Linked DNA regions of Homo sapiens: region 2 is linked to region 1. Evidence: fine-mapped expression QTL. A gene starts in region 1. The other region holds a variant in brackets. All regions are shown on one strand. Distances are between the middles of the regions.

Region 1 (9,841 bases):
TCGCTTGAACCCGGGAGGCGGAGTTTGCAGTGAGCCAAGATTGCACCACTGCATTCCAGCCTGGGCGACAGGGCGAGACTCCGTCTCAAAAAATAAATAAATAAATAAAAAATAAAAATAAAATTGAGACAGGGTCTATGTTGCCCAGGTCTGAACCTCCTGGGCTCAAATGATCCTCCTGCCTCAGCCCTCAAAATGCTGGGATTACAGGCATGAGCCCCTGTACCCAACCACAACTTTCCTTTTTTTTTTTTTCACTGTTTAAGGAATTTTTTATTAAAAAAAGAATTTTATAATCCAAATTACGCTTCCTTGCTCAGTTATCAATTCTGTTACTTAAAACAGAACTGATATTTTGAGCTATTCCACAGTAAAGATTACAAGGAATGCTTTAAATTTTTGTACTTTGCTGAAAATTATTTTTCCCAGGATCTATAAAACATTAATTTGTCTTTATATTTTATTATTTTTTGTGGGGTTTTTTTTGTTGTTTGTTTTTAAATCAATAAGTAATCTAGGACTAATATTATGTTTGCTAGACCTGGCATTTGCTCGGTACATAATGTTCAAAGTTTCCTTTCCTTTTTAAATTTATTTTATATTTTGCAATTTTTTTTTCCATATTTAAGTTTTTCGATGTTTAGATATTTTTCTTTGGTGAAGCACAAGTTTCTTTTCGTGGTCTCTGATCAATTTTAAACAGCAGGAACACCAATGGCACTGTTAACTGCTTTCTGGGTAGCCTCTTTAGCTTGGTGGGCTTGTAATATAGCTAGCTTCATGAACCTTAGAACAGAGTGACTCTGGACTCTCGAGCATATGAACATTTGCTTTTGCTCTTGAGGGGCAGATGCCAACATGGAAGCAGTCAAAGGTTCCTGACCTTGTACATGAACAGCAGGCTGTTGCATTGTAACTTGTGGCTGTGCATTAAGATGTTGCTGAGGATTGCGAACTCCCGCAGCATATTTATACTGTGGAACGGTGTGGACAGCAGGAGTAGCTGCAGCCAGCAGATACCAGGGTGTTAATATTTACGTGAAAAATCTTGATGATAGTATTGATGATGAACGTCTCCAGAAAGAGTTTTCTCCATTTGGTACAATCACTAGTGCAAAGGCTATGATGGAGGGTGGTCACAGCAAAGGGTTTGGTTTCGTATGTTTCTCCTTCCCGGAAGAAGCCACTAAAGCAGTTACAGAAATGAACGGTAGAACTGTGGCCACAAAACCATCGTATGTAGCTTTAGCTCAGCGCAAAGAAGAGTGCCAGGCTCACTTCACTAACCAGCATATGCAGAGAATGGCAAGTGTACGAGCTGTGCCCAACCATGTAATCAACCCCTACCAGCCAGCACCTCCTTCAGGTTACTTCATGGCAGCTATTCCACAGACTCAGAACCGTGCTGCAAGACCGGGCGCGGTGGCTCACGCCTGTAATCCCAGCACTTTGGGAGGCCAAGAGGGGCAGATCACGAGGTCAGGAGATCGAGACCATCCTGGCTAACACGGTGAAACCCGTCTCTACTAAAAAAATACAAAAAATTAGCCGGGCATGATGGCGGGCGCCCGTGGTCCCAGCTACTCGGGAGGCTGAGGCAGGAGAATGGCGTGAACCCGGGAGGCGGAGCTTACAGTGAGCCGAGATCGCACCCACTCCAGCCTGGGCGACAGAGCGAGACTCTGTCTCAAAAATAAATAAAAACCGTGCTGCATACTCTCCTCCTAGCCAAACTGCTCTACTGAGACCAAGTCCTCGCTGGACTGCTCAGGGTGCCAGACCTCATCCATTCCAATATGCCAGGTGCTATCCCCAAGCTGCTCCTATACCACCACTTAATACTATGAGACCAGCTTCTTCACAGGTTCCATGAGTCATGTCAACAGAGCGGTTGCTAACACATCAACTTTCCATTTTTTAACCAAATTATCCAACATTAGAATTCAAGGTTTCAATATTCTTAATTTGAAAACAATAAATATTAACGATCCATCAATTGTTTAAGTTTTATATTTCATAATTTCTCACTCCCAAAACAGTGTAACTTTTAGAAGCATCAATCAAGCAGCTCAATTCATGTATAATCTTTAGTATCAATATTTGCTTTATTTATTTTATTTTACTTTTTTGAGATGAAGTTTCACTCCTGTTGCCCAGGCTGGAGTGCAATGGCGCGATCTCCGCTCATCAAAACTTCCGCCTCCCGGGTTCAAGCGATTCTCCTGCCTCAGCCTCCCAGTAGCTAGGATTACAGGTATGCGCCACCACGCCCAGCTAATTTTGTATTTTTAGTAGAACTCCAGACCTCGGGTGATTTGCCTGCCTCGGCCTCCCGAAGTGCTGGGATTACAGGCTGGAGCCACCACACCAGGCCCAAGATTTGTTTTAATGAAAGGGGCTGGGAGCAGTGGCTCACACCTGTAATCGCAGCATATTGGGAGGCCGATGCAGGCAGATCATTCGAAGTCAGGAGATCGAGACCAAAGTGACCAACATAGTGAAATCCCATCTCTACTAAAAATACAAAAATTAGCTGGGCGTGGTGGCAGGCACCTGTAATCCCAGCTACTAGAGAGGCTGAGGCAGAATTGCTTGAACCCGGGAGGTGGAGGTTGCAGTGGGCCGAGACGCGCCACTGCACTCCAGCCTAGGTGACAGAGCAAGACTCCGTCTCAAAAAAAAAAAAAAAAAAAAAATTTAGCCGGGTGTGGTGGCACACGCTGGTAGTCCCAGCTACTTGGGAGGCTGAGGCAGAATAGCTTGAACCTGGGAAGTGGAGGTTGCAGTGAGCTGAGATCCCGCCGCCGCACACAGATTTGTTTTAATGAAAGGAACTGTTGTCTTATTCCTTCCAAAAAGGCAACAAATTGCAGAACCAAATTAAGAGTCTGAAAACTAAACCACAGGAATATTTTAAATACTGTACTCATTAAAATGCAACATTAGGTACATTTACTGGGCTCCAAGAGCAAGAGGCCAAGCTCATTCCCTAAAATACATTTGGCCAAGTGGCCCAAGGTGGAAACATTGTCAACAATGTTGCTTCCCTCACCTCCCACCAATTCTGATTGATTCTAACTCTGAAAAGTTGTTAAATCATTTCCTAGTCACTATTACCAATGCCATAGCCCTACCTGAAGATTTCAACGTCTTTCACCTAGACTACTGTTTACAGTTTCCTAGCCGGACTCACTGCCTCTGGTCTTCCCCTACTCCAATCTAGCACCAATTGTGACAACCAAAATGTCTCCAGCATTGCCAAACATCTCCTGGAGGTCAAAGTTGCCCTGACTCAGAACCACTGCTTCAAGCTGTTCCTACAAGAAGAATATTACTTATTTGTTAAGATTCTGGCCACAATCTATGTCAGTGGAACAGAAACCAAAAAAACTAACAAACATGAGGTTGAAATTTAAAACCTTAACCTTAGGACTGCCATGCTTAAACAAAATTAGCTGACACCTCATAAAAAGGGCCATAATACTCTTAAACTCCTTTGAACGTATAGACTTAAATCATCTTACTTTAAGCCTGAATTATGAAAAGTCTGTACCTTCTGTCAAAGTTTAACCACCATATATACATATTTAAGCTTCTGGATATAGAAAATTATGCAAATTTTTAAAAAGGACTTTGCGCTTTAATCAATCCCCTTCAGAAGCTGAAAATAGTAAACTTCTTAGGCAAATTACTGCCTACACCTAAGTTTGCAAGCCACTCTGAACAGTATTCTCATTAAATACCTCCAGAAAAAACTCTAAAAACACAAATTCTTATGCTTGAAAACCAGTAAGTTTTTGAAAAATCACACTCCTTTTAAATTTCCCACAATGGTTATATCCCTACAAAACTCACTCAAAGATGTTATCTGAGATACAACAGTACCTTTCAGAGGGGGTAAGAGATCTAAAAAACTTGGAACTTTAAAGGCCAGACTGAGCAGGGTAGCAGTATCACAGGAGAAAGCGCCTTCTACCAAAGACATCAAAATCCGTCCAGACACTTACCTTCAGGCGTTTGATCATCTCGTCCGTGGTGATCTTGTCGGTGATCTCTTTTACCCCCGGAGGGTAAGCGATCTTCCCGTCGGCACTCACGACGCCACAGAGGGCAGTGGCAGGCTTGGGCTGCGCGGTGAAGTCCATCCTGGGGGACAACTTTTGGTTCACAGTCCTCTACCGGCCTCTATCGGTCAGAAAACCAAAGTTCAGCGGGAAAGGGGCGACTTTGTAACCTCTTTTTTCATTTCAAATCTCTCTAATCTGGAAAAGGCCCTGTCTCCCCAGAGGCCGGGGACCCGGCAGCGGCCTCGCCACCCGCTCTTTCCCAGGGATCGAACCCCGCCGGCCCCGCCAACCCGGCCCTGCCAGCCCCAGGCTCACGGGGCTCCTCCGCACCAGCCGCCGTGGCCGCCGAACAGCGCCAGGAGTTTCCCATTCCGCCTTTCACAATGAAATCCACCCCCGAGCACCAGGGTCCGAAGTTTGGCGGCCCCGGGAGGCCGGCAAGGACCCCAAGGCCCCCGCTCGGCGGTGGGGAAGCACCCAGTCCCGCCCGGCCAGTCCCCTCCGGGAAACCAGACCCGAGGCCTATAGGGCTCGGCTTAGGCCGCAAAACTAGGGACCCAGCGGACCCACGCGCAGCGGCGGCTGCCGGGAACAAAACGCCCTTGCCCAGCCGAGCCTCGGACCCGGGGTAGTCCCCGCCGCGCTGCCACCCCTCCCCTGTTCCGCTCCCTCACCCCCGCGGGAGGGGAAAACAAGCCGCCCTCCACCCTCAGCCCCACGCCAGGAAGCGGCTGACGCGCCTCCGCACTTCACATTTTGTTCCTTCAACTTCGGCTGAGGGACCCCAGCTGCTTCTCTGGCCCCCGGCCGCTTGGCGCCTCCGGCACCGCCGAGGCCTTCCCGGCACCCTCGGGCGGCCCCACCGGGCCTCGGACCCGCGGCCCCCCCCTCCAGTCTCCCCTTCCGTCCCCTCCCTCCAGCAGCCTAGGGCGGGAGCCGAGCCGCCGCCGCCTTTACCTCCTCCTCATGCGGGCGGAAGGTGCATCGAGCGCCCGGGCCTCTGTCAGGTGGTTGCGCCGCCGCCCCTAGTCGGGCTGCACACAAAGCGGCTCCGCGGGTCCCGCCGCCGCCGCCGCCGCCGCCCGCCCGCCCGGGAGCGGCGCTGGGGCTGGCGGTGCCGAGGAGGAGCAGCCGCCGCGGGGGGAGACGCGGGGCGAGTGAGCGCTGGGCGGGGAGACAGTGCCGCTCTCCGTCTGGCCGAGGAAGAGCAGCCTCGAAGGCTCCTCCGGGAGTGTGTGCGCTTGTGTCCGTCCGGGACCCCCGCGGCCCGCCCGCACGCACCTCGCGCCGGCCCGGACCGCCGACTCGGACCCGGACGCCCCTCGCAGAGGCGCGCGCCCGGCCGTCCGTGCCCCGGGAGCCGGGGCCTCGCGCACACACCGGCCGGTCACGCGAGCGGCGCGAGAGCACGCGAGAGCAGCGCGCGCTCCTCGCTCCCTCCCCTTCCTCCGCCGGCCGTGCATCCGCCTCCCTCGGGCCCGAGGCGGCCGCGCGCAGGGCGGACAGCGCCGCCACCCGGTTGGCGCCAATACCTGCCGCGCGGGGCGCCTCCCGGAGGACCCGACCGGAGAGGGCGAGAGGAGGAGGAGCCCGGGTGGCGGGAAGCGAGCCCAGGTTCCCGCGGCCTTGCGAGGGCACGCAGGGCAAACAGTGCTTTATCTTTCGCAGCGGCGATGAGCTGGTGACTTTTGGGGGTCATCCTGAGGGACATAGACGAAACTGGTTGGGAGGTAGTTAATTGCTCGGTGAAAATGAACTGATTTCCTCCTCAGGGAGAGATCTGCAAAGTCAAGGAAAGTTGTGCAATGGGGCGCAGCGTGAGCGGCTCACTCTCGGGTCTTCTGACAGCCACCCGAGTTGCCCACCCTCCTTAGATTTCTGAAGTTAATATTTTGAAAGCTGCAAAACATGAAAATAGCATTGGGTCGAGTCGTTCTCAAGGTATGGTCTTTGGGCCACCAGGCCTCACAATCACTTTGGGTACTGGCTGAAAACGTAGGTTTCCAACTCCAAAGATTAAAAAACATAAAAATATATGTTTTTTTAACGTAAAAATATATATGAACATAAAACATATAAAAATATAACATATAAAATAAAACACTAAAAAATATAAAAATATACATAAACATAAAAATCTCTGAGAGTGGAACCCAGAAATAAGCATTTATTAATTGGGTGGGTGATTCTTGTAAATAAGGAAGAGCTCATTTTTTAAAAATGTTTTAAACCTACCAAGCATTAACGTTTTCTGTCATCCAAAGGAAAACCACTATCAGGTAAAAACAGTGCACGCAGCAGTGTTTGAGCAATTTAATGTATGTAATTGAAACAAATTAACGCAAGAACATACACTTACCTATTTAAAAAAAATCAAGAGCATACACAAAATTTCCGAAGAGAAAGTTGAAAAAAGGATACGATAATATGAAATCACATTCAGCTCTTGAAACTGACCACTACCATAGTTTAAAATGATATTCGATTGTTTATTCAAATTATTCTTGATGGGTACCCATTGGTCTATTTTTTTCCCACATCCTTTAACGTCAACTTAAAAATAGTAAAGGTACTGCATTTCAGCTCACTGACTTGTTTTTGACGTATTACACAAGAGCAGTCATTGCGAATCTGACACTCCACAGTTGCTGATTTGCTAGAACTCTGCCCAAAAGTCAATGCTTTGTTCTTGGGCATTTACAGTACCAGGCAGAATCCATTTAAAAGTGTCCTCATCCAAACTATTAAGTGGACCAAAAGCTGCTCTCTTTTTAGGCTCTCCCTGTCACTTTTGATATTTATTTTTTTCTTTTGAGACGGAATCTTACTCTGTCACCCAGGCTGGAGTGCAGTGGCGTGATATCGGCTCACTGCAAGCTCTGCCTCCCGGGTTCACGCCATTCTCCTGCCTCAGTCTTCCGAGTAGCTGGGACTACAGGCGCCCGCCACCACGCCCGGCTAATTTTTTTTTTTTGTATTTTTAGTAGAGACGGGGTTTCACCATGTTAGCCAGGATGGTCTCGATCTCCTGAGCTAGTGATCCGCCCGCCTCGGCCTCCCAGAGTGCTGGGATTACAGGCATGAGCCACCGCGCCCGGCCAAATTTGATATTTCTTTGTGTGTTACATTTAATTAAACAACAATGATTTTATCTTTCATCCTCCTCAGTAGCTTGCCCATTATTAAATGGAGTTTTGTATATGTACATATATTTTATTTTATTTATTTTTTATATTATTTTATTATTTTTTGAGATGAAGTCTCACTTTGTCGCCCAGACTGCAGTGCAGTGGCATGATCTCGGCTCACTACAGCATCCGCCTCCCAGGTTCAAGCGACTTTTGTGCCTCAGGCCCCCAAGTAGTTGGGACTACAGGTGTGTGCCACCATACCGGGCTAATTTTTTTTTGAGACAGAGTCTCCCTCTGTCGCCCAGGCTGGAGTGTGGTGGTGTGATCTTGGCTCACTACAACCTCTGACTTCTGGGTTCAAGCAATTCTCCTGCCTCACCCTCCCAAGTAGCTGGGATTACAGGCGCCCGCCACTATGCCCGGCTAATTTTTGTTATTTTTAGTAGAGACAGGGTTTCACCATGTTGGTCAGGCTGGTCTCAAACTCCTGACCTCAGGTAATCTGCCCGCCTCACCCTCCCAAAGTGCTGGGATTACAGGCTTGAGCCACCGTGCCTGGCCTTACTGGTTGATTTCTTTTTTTTTTTTTTTAACATGGAGTCTCACTCTATCACCAGGCTTGAGTGCAGTGGTGCGATCTCGGTTCACTTCACCTCTGCCTCCCAGGTTCAAGCGATTCATCTGCCTCAGTCTCCCAAGTAGCTGGGACTACAGGCGTACACCACCACGCCCAGCTTATTTTTATATTTTTAGTAGAGATGGAGTTTCACCATATTGGCCAGGCTGATCTCGAATTCCTGACCTCGTGATTTGCCCGCCTCGGCCTCCCAAAGTGCTGGGATTACAGGTGTGAGCCCCTGCGCCTGGCCTATTTTATTTTTTCGAGACGAAGTCTTGCTCTGTTGCCCAGGCTGGAGTGCAGTGGTACAATCTGGGCGCACTGCAACCTACGCCTCCTGGGTTCAAGCAGATCTCCTGCGTCAGCCTCCCAAGATCTGGGACTACAGGCATGCGCCACCACGCCTGGCTAATTTTTGTACTTTTAGTAGAGACAGGGTTTTACCATGTTGGCCAGCCTGGTCTCGAACTCTTGACCTTAGGTGATCCACCCACCTTGGGCTCCCAAAGTGCTGGAATTACAGGCATGAGCCACTGCACCCAACCTCCACCAAGCTTTTCTTCCCCGCTCAGTGCCCAAAACAATGCCTTATATTATAGGCCTCTTTAAATAATTGTTTCACAAATGAAGGCCTGCCCTCCTGGTGGACCTTAATTTGTTTGGGGAGAAATAGACCAAAATAACAATAATACATGTATATGAAAATAAAGTAGGGAAGAGTTGGGCACGGTGGCTCGCACCTGTAATCCCAGCACTTTGGGAGGGGGAGGCAGGCAGACTATTTGAGGTCACGAGTTTCAGACCAGCCTGGCCAGCATGGTGAAACCCCATCTCTATTAAAAAGACAAAAAATTAGACTCAGTGGCTCAGGCACGGTGGCTCAGGACTGTAATCCCAGCACTTTGGGAAGCCGAGGTGGGTGGATCACCTGAGGTCAGGAGTTCCAGACCAGCCTGACCAACATGGTGAAACCCTGTCTCCACTAAAAATACAAAAATTAGGCAGGCGCACTGGCACATGTCTGTAATCCCAGCTACTAAGAAGGCTGAGGCAGGAGAATCGTTTGAACCGGGGAGATGGAGGTTGCAGCGAGCTGAGAAAGCACCACTGCACTCCAGCCTGGGCGACAGAGTGAGACTCCCTGGAGTGAGAGAGAGTACAGATCACATGTAGCCTTTTAGACCTCTGGTAAGACTGTGGCTATCCTCTGATTGAGGTGGGGAACTAATGGACTGTTTTAAGCAAAGAGGTGATATGATGTATGTCCTGAGTTAGGCAATGTTGGTCAAACCACTTAATTCTTCTGTGCCTCATTTTCTTCATCTGTAAAACAAGGATAATGATAGTATCTTCCTCACATGATCATTATGAGGAATACATAACTTAATTTTTTTTTCTGTCGCCCAGGCTGGAGTGCAGTGTTGCAGTCTCGGCTCACTGCAACCTCTGCCTCCCAGGTTCAAGTGATTCTCTTGCCTCAGCTTCCCTAGTAGCTGTGATTACAGGCACGCACCACCATGCCCAGCAATTTTTTGTATTTTTAGTGTGATGGGATTTCACCATGTTGGCCAGGCTGCTCTTGAACTCCCGACCTCAGGTGATCCGCCCGCCTTGGCCTCCCAAAGTGCTAAGATTACAGGTGTGAGCCCCTGCGCCTGGCCATAAGTTAATATTTGTAAAATGCCTAGAATAGTAACTCGCATATACTAAGCTCTACATAATTTTTTTTAATAAAATAAAATAAAAAAATCAAAGAGTTTTATGTGGTTAATAATTGCACAAAGGGGTGGCTTTGTGAGTCTTTATTCTACCTCCCACATAATTTCAATCAGTGTCCCCCTCACACATACATTCAGTTATATAATCTATGTACAAAATTGCGTCCAATGCAATTTGAGGACAAACCCCTAACCCCCAATTTCACTACAGCTCCTTCTATATACAAATTCTAGAGCTCCTGACCAACATGGCAAAACCTCATCTCTACTAATATATATATATATATTTGCATATATATATATATG
Region 2 (9,841 bases), 82 kb before region 1:
AATGATGTACAACCCTGTGATTAAAAAGAGACATACAGAGGTTTTCAGGTATCTTTAGGAGCCCAGAATTTAAATTAACAACATTGTCGTTGCAGATTATTATTTATTTTTGAGCGAATATACTTCTTGGCTTACCTTATGGCTTCTGAATCAATGTGCACAGGTGCGATTCTTTCCAACAGAAATTTGACCATCTCTAGAAAAGGATTTGTTGGTTGCTTAGGATTTGCAAGTTTCCGGGCTATTTCTCTCTATAGAAAGAAAGGAGTTTTACCAAAAACGTGATTTGCTTTCATATTTTTGAAAAGAAAAATGACTAAGGAACTGAAATATTCAAAACCAGCATAAGTGGTTAAGAATTGTCTGCTCTAGACCCTGACTAAAATTTTTACACCCCGAGCAATGACTGAAAAATCTGGACAGCAGAGAAAAGAAGTGGATGATGTGGTTTCTGAGTGAACACAGCCTTGCCTCACAATTCTTTGATGAAATTATTGGTTGATATAGCAACTTTTTTTTTTTTGAGACGAGTCTAACTCTGTCACCAGGCTACAGTGCAGTGGCACGATCTCGGCTCACTGCAACCTCCACCTCCTGGGTTCAAATGATTCTCCTGCCTCAGGCTCCAGAGTAGCTGGGATTACAGGCACGTGCCTCCATGCCCAGCTAATTTTTGTTATTTTTGTAGAGACGGGGCTTCACCATGTTGGCCAGGCTGGTCTTGAACTCCTGACCTCAAGTGATCCACCTGCCTCGACCTCCCAAAGTGCTGGGATTACAGGCGTGAGCCACCACACACCTGGACTATGGCAACCTTTTTAATACTCTAATTTAGAATAAAAACAATTTGTACTTTTATGGGTATGCTTTATTGGTTTTAATTATTTCATAATTTGACAGAACATTGTGTTTTGTTTCAGTTATTTTTTTTTTTGAGCTGGAGTCTCGCTCTGTCAGTCACTCAGGCTGGAATGCAATGGTGCAATCTTGGCTCACTGCAACCTCCGCTTCCCAGGTTCAAACAACTCTCCTGCCTCAGCCTCCATAGCAGCTGGGTTTAAACATGCACGCCACCATGCCCGGCTAATTTTATATTTTTAGTAGACATGGGGTTTCGTCATGTTGGCCAGGCTGGTCTCGAACTCCCGAACTCAGGTGATCCAACCCGCCTCGGCCTCCCAAAATGCTGGGATTATAGGCATGAGCCACTGTGCCTGGCCAGTTAATTTGTTTCTTAAAAAATACATATTCAGGCCGGGCGCAGGTGGCTCACGCCTGTAATCCCAGCACTTTGGGAGGCTGAGGCGGGCGGATCACCTGAGGTCAGGAGTTCGAGACCAGCCTGACCAACATGGAGAAACCCCATCTCTATTAAAAATACAAAATCAGCCGGGCTTGGTGGCGCATGCCTGTAATCCCAGCTACTCGGGAGGCTGAGGCAGGAGAATTGCTTGAACCTGGGAGGCGGAGGCTGCGGTGAGCTGAGATCGTGCCATTGCACTCCAGCCTGGGGAACAAGAGCAACTCCATCTCAAAAGAAACAGAAACACATATTCGTACATATATATATATATACTTGCAAAATTTTTCAGTTCTGGAAGAACATAGGTGGAGGATAAATGAGAACTCTGTACACCCTTAGAATTTTATTTATAAGTTAGACATACAGTTATGGAAGGCTGATAGATAACCCCAATAATAAAAGTAACTCTCAGCCAGGAGCAGTGGCTCATGCCTGTAATCAAAGCACTTTGGGAGGCCAAGGCAGGTGGATTGCCTGAGCTCAAGAGTTTGACACCAGTCTGGAAAACATGGCAAAACCCTGTTTCTACCAAAAAATACAAAAAATTAGCCAGGCGTGATGGTGCATGCCTGGGGTCCCAGCTACTCAGGAGGCTGAGGTGGGGGGGATCACTTGAGCCTGGTAGGCAGAGGTTGCAGTGACCACCTGAGATTGCACAGCTGCACAGACTCTGTCTCAAAACAAAAAACAAAAAACAAAAAAAAGTTAACTATCCATTTAAGCTCAAAGATTATGGTATTAGGCCGGGTGCAGTGGCTCATGCCTATAATCCCAGCACTTTGGGAGGCCGAGGTGACGGATCGTTTGAGGTCAGGAGTTTTGAGACCAGCCTGACCATTCTCAGAGGCCATTCTCAGATTTGTCTTCTCTTTCATTTCTTCTCTACCTCCTCCAAGTGATGTAATTGTGCTAATATATAGAACCAGGCCTGAATCCCAACACTTCTGAACACAACTGCAAAGACGCTATCTTCTTCCCTAAAGCATCTCCTCTGATATCCAGTCAGCCAAACTGAAAATATAGCAGTCATTCTTCACACAATGGTCTAATTCCTATTCATCCTTTAAGACTCAACTTAGGAGTCACTTATTCTAGAAGAAGCCATTCCTGGACCTATTTCCACCCCTGCCTGGAATGAGTAATGCTTCTTTATTTTACCAAAGCACACAATTCAATGGAAATATTTGTCAGCCTCTGTCACTTATTCTGCAAGCTCCATGAGAAACCATGTATTATAAAATTTATTTAATCATGCAGTGAATTATAACAGTGTGTGCTTGATCAAGAAAGAAGATATTTGGACTTCTGAAGATATAATGCATATCCAGGTAACTAGGTAGAGGAGGGTTTTTAAAAGTGTAGTCCATAAACCACTCATGTTGAAACTTGGTTAAAAGATGGAGAGATTCATGATGCTACATCATAACCTATTTTAAAGATGCCTACTCTTTGTAAGGGTAAGACCTATAAAAATGACCATTTATTGAAACCCTGTAGGCAGTGCAGGGGGGCCCTGCATTAGGCCACATATAAAATTTCATTTTACATTATTCTTTTAAAAATTCTATGAGGTTGATAATATTTATAGGTGAAGAAAATGAATAAGGAGGCTTGAAAATACTGAGTAACTTACTAAAGGTCATACTGGTAGTAAACGATATTCAAACCAAGGACTGTTTCATTAAATGTCAAATAAACAAGCTTCCTGGAAAATATTAAAATTTGGGGACCACTCTCATGGGGAGGGGGGCAATGGAGCATAAACTATGACGCACAGCTGAAGCTATGGCAAGTATGTGGTCCTTCTCTAGGGTCAAGGTGTAGAAACCTAAAACCTGAATTCTAAAGGGAAAGTAAATCTATATATCACATTTCAATTCCACTGCTCACTCTCATTCATTATATCCCCCACCCCACACACAAATACACGTCTCTTTTGATAATCTTTGCTCAAAGTATGTTTGCTAAGATTTTTCAGAAATGGAACTTGGACAAAGAGGGAAGAAAATATTAGATTTCTATGCCTACTAACTCTCGTATCAAGTAATATCTACCTCTTGAGAAGTGAGATATGAAAATAAGGAGGTAGTGACAAATACGCATTAGGGTACAGAGAAGGAACTCTCAAGGATGGAATGCAAGCTACATAGAATGAGAGAAACTAAATTTTACATTTGCATTATTTTTCTTTATTCTTCTACATCAGAAAAGGAATGGGGATATTAGAGGAAATATGTAAATAATATTCAGTAGCCCATAGGGGAAAGGACAAACTCATAAAGGTACTCTAGCAGAGGTTTGTTTTCATGTGTGCCTAAGGGAGGTATTCTAAGTCCCACTTTACGTATGAGAACACATAGTTAAATAACATACTCAAGTCACACAATGCTAATATAAGAGCTAGGAAAGAAGGTATAATGAACTCATGCTCTTACCACTGCAAGTGCAGTATTCATTTCTACCTCACTGGTTCCTAATATCAAGAGCACTGATTGGCTATACTGTGTGGCTGTTGCAGTCACAGTGTTGGGATTACAACAGTGAGCCACCGCGCCCAGCCTTTTCAAGCTATTTCATTGTCTGATCTAATTATAATAGTAGATTCTCTGCAGGACACAGTACTCTGGAACTAGAATTCTAAATGCCAAAGAAGTCAATGAAACTTTTAAGCGTTTTCAGCAAATTACTCAGCTCAGAAGTACAAAGCTTATTGGGCATGGTGGATCATGCCTGTAATCCCACTACTTTGGGAGGCCAAGGTGGGTAGGATCACTTGAGTCCAAGAGTTCAAGACCAGCCTGGGCAACATGGTGAAATCTCATCTCTACTAAAAATACAAAAATTAGTCAGGCATGATGGCGCATGCCTGTAATCCCAGCTACTTGGGAGGCTGAGGCAGGAGGATCATTTGAGCCCTAGATGCAGAGGTTACGGTGAGCTGAGATTGTGTCATTACACTCCAGCCTGGGTGACAGAGCAAGACCCTATCTCAAAAAAAAAAGAAAAAAATAAGTAAGTAAATAAAATTTAAAAAAGAAGTGCAAAGGTTGAGGTTGTCTGGGCATTTGGCACATCCACATTCATAGCCCTGAGAGACAAGCCCACTCTTCTCTTCCCTAAATTGGTTTTCCTCCCCATGTCCTCCTAATTATTGGTATTTGTAATGGTATTCAGATCTCTATGCTGAATAAAAGATACATGTTCTATGCAGCTAGACCTCTCCACATATACATCTATTATAGTCCTTATCCTTTATAAGTTATTTTAAAACCATCAACTCTAATCCCTTCTAGAACAAAGTTAGACATATGTAATTGAAATTACATTTCTCTTATTTGTCTCTATAAGCCTGGTCCCAAGCATAGTACTTGACGTTTATGTCTAACATTGTGAGAAGGATTATTTATTTAAATCCAATAGGGCAGTGCAGGGCCCTTATACAGAGAAATACATACCCTCCCCCTGCCCACACACACAAAGAATTATCCATCACTCAATGGTGGAGACAGATTTTGAGAAATGTGTTGTTGGCCAGGCACGGTGGCTCACACCTGTAATCCCAGCACTTTGGGAGGCCGAGGCGGGCGGATCACGAGGTCAGGAGATCGAGATCATCCTGGCTAACATGGTGAAACCGCGTCTCTACTAAAAATACAAAAAATTAGCC[G/A]GGCGAGGTGGCAGGAGCCTGTAGTCCCAGCTACTCGGGAGGCTGAGGCAAGAGAACGCAGTGAGCCAAGATCGCGCCACTGCACTCCAGCTTGGGCGACAGTGAGACTCCGTCTCAAAAAAAAAAAAAAAAAAAAAAAGAGAAATGTGTTGTTAAGGCAATTTCATCATGTGAACATTAGAGTGCACGCACACAAACCTAAATGGTATAGCGTACTACTTCTATGCTACAAAATTGTACAGCATGTTACTATGCTAAATACTGTAGGGAACTGTAACACAGTGGTATTTGTGTATTTGAACATTATCTAAACACAGGGTAAAAATATAAAAGATAAAAACACAATATAAACCATATAATAAAAATGCCATATAAAAGATAAAAAACAGTACACCTACATATAGAGCACTTACCATAAATGAAGCTTACAGGACTGCAAGTTGATCTGGGTAAGTCAGTGAGTAAGTGGTGAGTGAATGTGAAGAAACAGGACATTACAGTACACTACTGTAGACTTTATAAACACTGTACACTTAGGCAGCACGATATTTAAACACTTTTTCTTTCTTCAATGATAAATTATCCTTAGCTTTTTGTAATATTTTTACTTGATGAACTTCAAGGGTTTGTTTTTGTTTGATTGTTTGTTTTTGAGACAGAGTCTCGCTCTGTCGCCCAGGCTGGAGTGCAGTGGCATGATCTCAGCTCATTACAAGCTCCGCCTCCCAGGTTCACACCATTCTCCTGCCTCAGCCTCCAGAGTAGCTGGGACTACAGGCGCCCGCCACCATGCTCAGCTAATTTTTTTTTTTTTGTATTTTTAGTAGAGACGGGGTCTCACCGTGTTAGCCAGGATGGTCTCGATCTCCCGACCTCATGATCTGCCAACCTCGGCCTCCCAAAGTGCTGGGATTACAGGTGTGAGCCACCACACCTGGCCCGGTTTTTTTTTTTTTTAGCTTTTAAAAAAATTTTTGGAGACAGGATCTTGTTCTGTCACCCAGGCTGGAATGCAGTGGTGTGACCATAGCTCACTGTAGGCTTAAAATCCTGGGCTCAAGTGATCCTCCCATCTTGGCCTCTGGAGTAGTCAGGACTACAGGTGTGCGCCACCATGTGCAGCTAGTTTTCTTTAATGTTTTGTAGAGGCGGGGGTTTTGATATATTGCCCAGGTTGGTCTCAAATTCCTGGCTTCAAGTGATCCTCCTGCCTAGGCCTCCCAAAGTGCTGAGATTACAGGTGTGAGCCAATGTACTGATCTTTTTTTTTTTTTTTTTTAGCTTTTTGACTCTTTTGTAGTAACACTTAGCTTAAAACACATTTTGTGTACAGCTGTACACAAAATGGTTTCTTTCCTTATATCCTTATTCTACTAGCTTCTTCCTATTAAAAATTTTTTTGGCTGCATGTGGTGGCTCACACCTGTAATCCCAATATTTTGTGGGGCTGAGGCAGGTAGGTTTCTTCAGCTCAGGAGTTCCAGACCAGCTTGGACAACATGGAGAAACCCTGTCTCTACAAAAAATAAAAAATTAGCTGGGCATGGTGGCATGTGCCTATAGTCCCAGCTACTCAGGAGATTGAAGGGAGAGGATCACGTGAACCCAGGAGGCTGAGGATGCAGTGGGCCATGATAACATCACTGAACTCCAGTCTGGGTGACAGAGCAAAACCCTGTTTAAAAAAAAAAAAAGAAAGTTTTAAAACTTTTTTTTGTGCAAAACTAAGATACAACCACATACAATAGCCTAGGCCTACGCCAGGTCAGGATCACCAAGATGTCACTAGGTGATAGGAATCCTTCAGTTCCGTTATAATCTTTTTTTTTTTTTAATGCTTTAAGTTATGGGATACATGTGCACAATGTGCAGGTTTGTTACACAGGTATACATGTGTCATGGTAGTTTGCTACACCCATCACCCTGAGTTCTGTTATAATATTATGGGACTCCCAAAATACATGTGGTCTTATCTTTGGCCAAAATGTTGTCATGCAGTATACCATTTTAGATACATCAAGAATCTTTTGCCTGGGTGTGTGGCTCATGCCTGTAACCCCAGCACTTTGGGAGGCCGAGGTGGGTGGATCACCTGAGGTAAGGAGTTCAAGATCAGCCTGGCCAACATGGTGAAAACCTACCTCTACTAATAATACAAAAAATTAGCCAGATGTGATGGCTCATGCCTGTAATCTCAGCTACTCGGAAGGCTGAGGCACAAGAATCGTCTGAACCCAGGAGGTGGAGGTTGCAGTGAGGTGAGATAATCACTTGAAGGAGTTTGAGACCACCCTGGGCAACACAGAGACAAAAATTTTTATTTTTTCCTTTTCTTGAGACAGTCTCATTCTGTCACTCAGGCTGGTGTGCAGTGGCATGATCTCGGCTCACTACAACCTCCACCTCCCGAGTTCAAGCAATTCTCCTGTCTCAGCCTCTTGAGTAGCTCAGATTACAGGCATGTACCACCACACCTGGCAAATTTCTGTATTTTTAGTAGAGATGGGGTTTCACCAAGTTGGCTAGGCTGGTCTCGAACTCCCAACCTCAGGTGATCCACACGCCTTGGACTCCCAAGGTGCTGGGATTACAGGTGTGAGCCAATGTGCATGGCCTCCAAAAAATTTAAAAACTTAGCTGGGTGTGGATGCGTGTGCCAATAGTTCTAGCTATTCAGAAGGCTGGGGTATAGGATCACATGAGCACAGGACTTTAACGCTGTAGTGAACTATGATTGTGCCACTGAACTCCAGCCTGGGTGACAAAAGCAAGACTATCTCAGGAAAAAAAAAAAAAAAGCTGAATAAATGAATGCATAAGTTTTCCCTCCTGATAGCTTTAAGAATATTGGTTTTAAATGAGTTCAAGAGAAGAATGAAGACAAAAGTCTAGATAGGAATTTACTTTATCTGTAAATGAAACCAGATATATGGCAATGTTACTACTACTAATTTATTGACGATTATTTCCATTCTAATACATGAAAGAAGAAAATGCACATGTACACAAGCATTCAGAAAATACTTATCATTACTCAATGAATGTCTACTAAGTTCAAAGTACTTTATCTTGTAAAATTCCTAAGACCAATCTCCCTGGCTTAGTTCTTTAGTTATTTTCCTGGAATGTGGCTGAGAGTGAATGGTAAATAGAGAATTAACTTGACAATAGATATACTCCAAAGTAATTCAGAGCTCACAATATTGTTACATTTACACAAATCACTGTATGTAAAACAGGCTTTAATAAAATACATATTTCTGTAAGTAAAGCTAGAGAAAAAGTGTGAAGTATGATTTACTAACCACACAAATATCTGCTTGTTTGCAAGAACAGGTTGGGCTAATTAATAACTCCAACTGAGACCGAAGTTTCTCATCATCGCCGAGAACCTGGTTAAATTTCTTCACAAAATCTTGTGCTTTCCCGGGGTCAGGCAAATTCTCTATAAAATTAAAAGAGAATCAATATTAGAGAAGGAAAAAAAAAAAACTATTCTACTAAGCTAAAAACAGGTGCCATCAAAATATTGCGGAGCCACTAAAAGAAAATCAGCCTAGCTGGTTCTTAGAAACAAAATTAAGATAAAGATTATTTTCTTTTACTTAACATTAAATCAGTAGTCCCACTGGGTAAATACTTTGTCTGCATTTACGTTTACTACATGTTTAGTGAGTAAATAAACATACTCACTTGCTATGGTCATCAGTTTTCCAAACATGGCAGAACAGTTAGCCTCTGACTGAAATTTAAAACAGAAACAAAAGAACAACTAGTCATATGTGTTAACAAATTTCCCTAACAAAAATCAATACTCATTACTGTACATTTTTCATGACGTTAAAAAATAAAGTTCATCACAGTCTGCTCAATGGAAAATGGTTTTACCACATATATACGCTAAACTAACAACAAAGAATTACATAGTAGCAACTATTAAGACAAATAGAAGGAAAGGAGATGTTGGGAGGAAGGTACTTAAAAACCCACAAGTATATAACTTTCACAGGAAAGTTACATTGCCAGAAGATTGAAAAAAGATCAATGAAGCAATCAACATATAAACTTATCATATCAGAATTACTATGAAACTACATGCCACAAAAAATTAACTAAAAATATAGAGAAGAAACTTTTTTTTCTGCAATAGAGTTCTGTTAGCTACTTTGTGGCCCGTTACTTAAATACCTTCAGGAAAACCTCCTTTCTAAAACGTACTTCCCTTTCCTGTATCCCATAAAACATTACTTATTAGTTTTCATTTATACTAAATTTGAATAATTTAGTTCAAAAGTTAGAAAACTATGCCCCCATGAGCTACCTGTTTTTGTTAGTAGTTTCGATGGAATATAGTCATGTCCATTCATTTATTTATCGTGTATGACTAATTTTGCAAAGGCAGGGTTGAATATCTGACCACAGACTCTATGCCTTGCAAAATATGTTTTTGCTATCTGTTGATTTATTTTCAAAGTTTGCTAGGCTAGGTGCAGTATCTCACACCTGTAATCCTAGCAATTTGGGAGGCCTAGGCAGGCAGACTGCATGAGCCCAAGATTTTGAGACCAGCCTGGGAAACATGGTGAAAACTCACCTCTACAAAAAACATACAAAACCTAGCTGGGTATGGTGGAGCACACCCGTAGTCCCAGCTATTCAGAAGGCTGAGGTGGGAGGATCACCTCAGCCCAGTGACATCGAGGCTGCAGTGAGCTGTGATCATGCCACTATGCGACAGCCTGGGCAACAGAGTAAGATCCTGTGTATTAAAAAAAAAAAAAAAAAAAAAAAAAAAAGTTTGCCCGCCCCTGTTCCAGCATCCATGTGTCCTTGAGGGGTCTGTTTATATGGTCCCCTGGTTAAGAACACCT

The links. PIP is the estimated chance that this variant, and not a neighbour inherited with it, causes the effect.
Region 2: its variant is the best candidate, but not a certain one, in a credible set for the expression of PDS5A in lung (TOPMed, PIP 0.60).

Annotation. Positions count from the first base shown.
Region 1 is chr4:39,972,433-39,982,273 of GRCh38, forward strand. It overlaps PDS5A (PDS5 cohesin associated factor A), which reads right to left and starts at 5,479. Exons shown (of 33, transcript NM_001100399.2): 1 at 5,025-5,479; 2 at 4,008-4,185. The coding sequence starts at 4,145. It also overlaps the pseudogene PABPC1P1. RefSeq lists an enhancer at 3,818-4,726 and silencers at 4,264-5,013, 5,064-5,703.
Region 2 is chr4:39,890,114-39,899,954 of GRCh38, forward strand. PDS5A (PDS5 cohesin associated factor A) reads right to left here. Exons shown (of 33, transcript NM_001100399.2): 15 at 8,664-8,712; 16 at 8,276-8,415; 17 at 136-251. Among named protein-coding and RNA genes, the nearest start is that of PDS5A, 83 kb to the right of the region's middle. The variant G/A (reference allele first, on the strand shown) is at 4,971.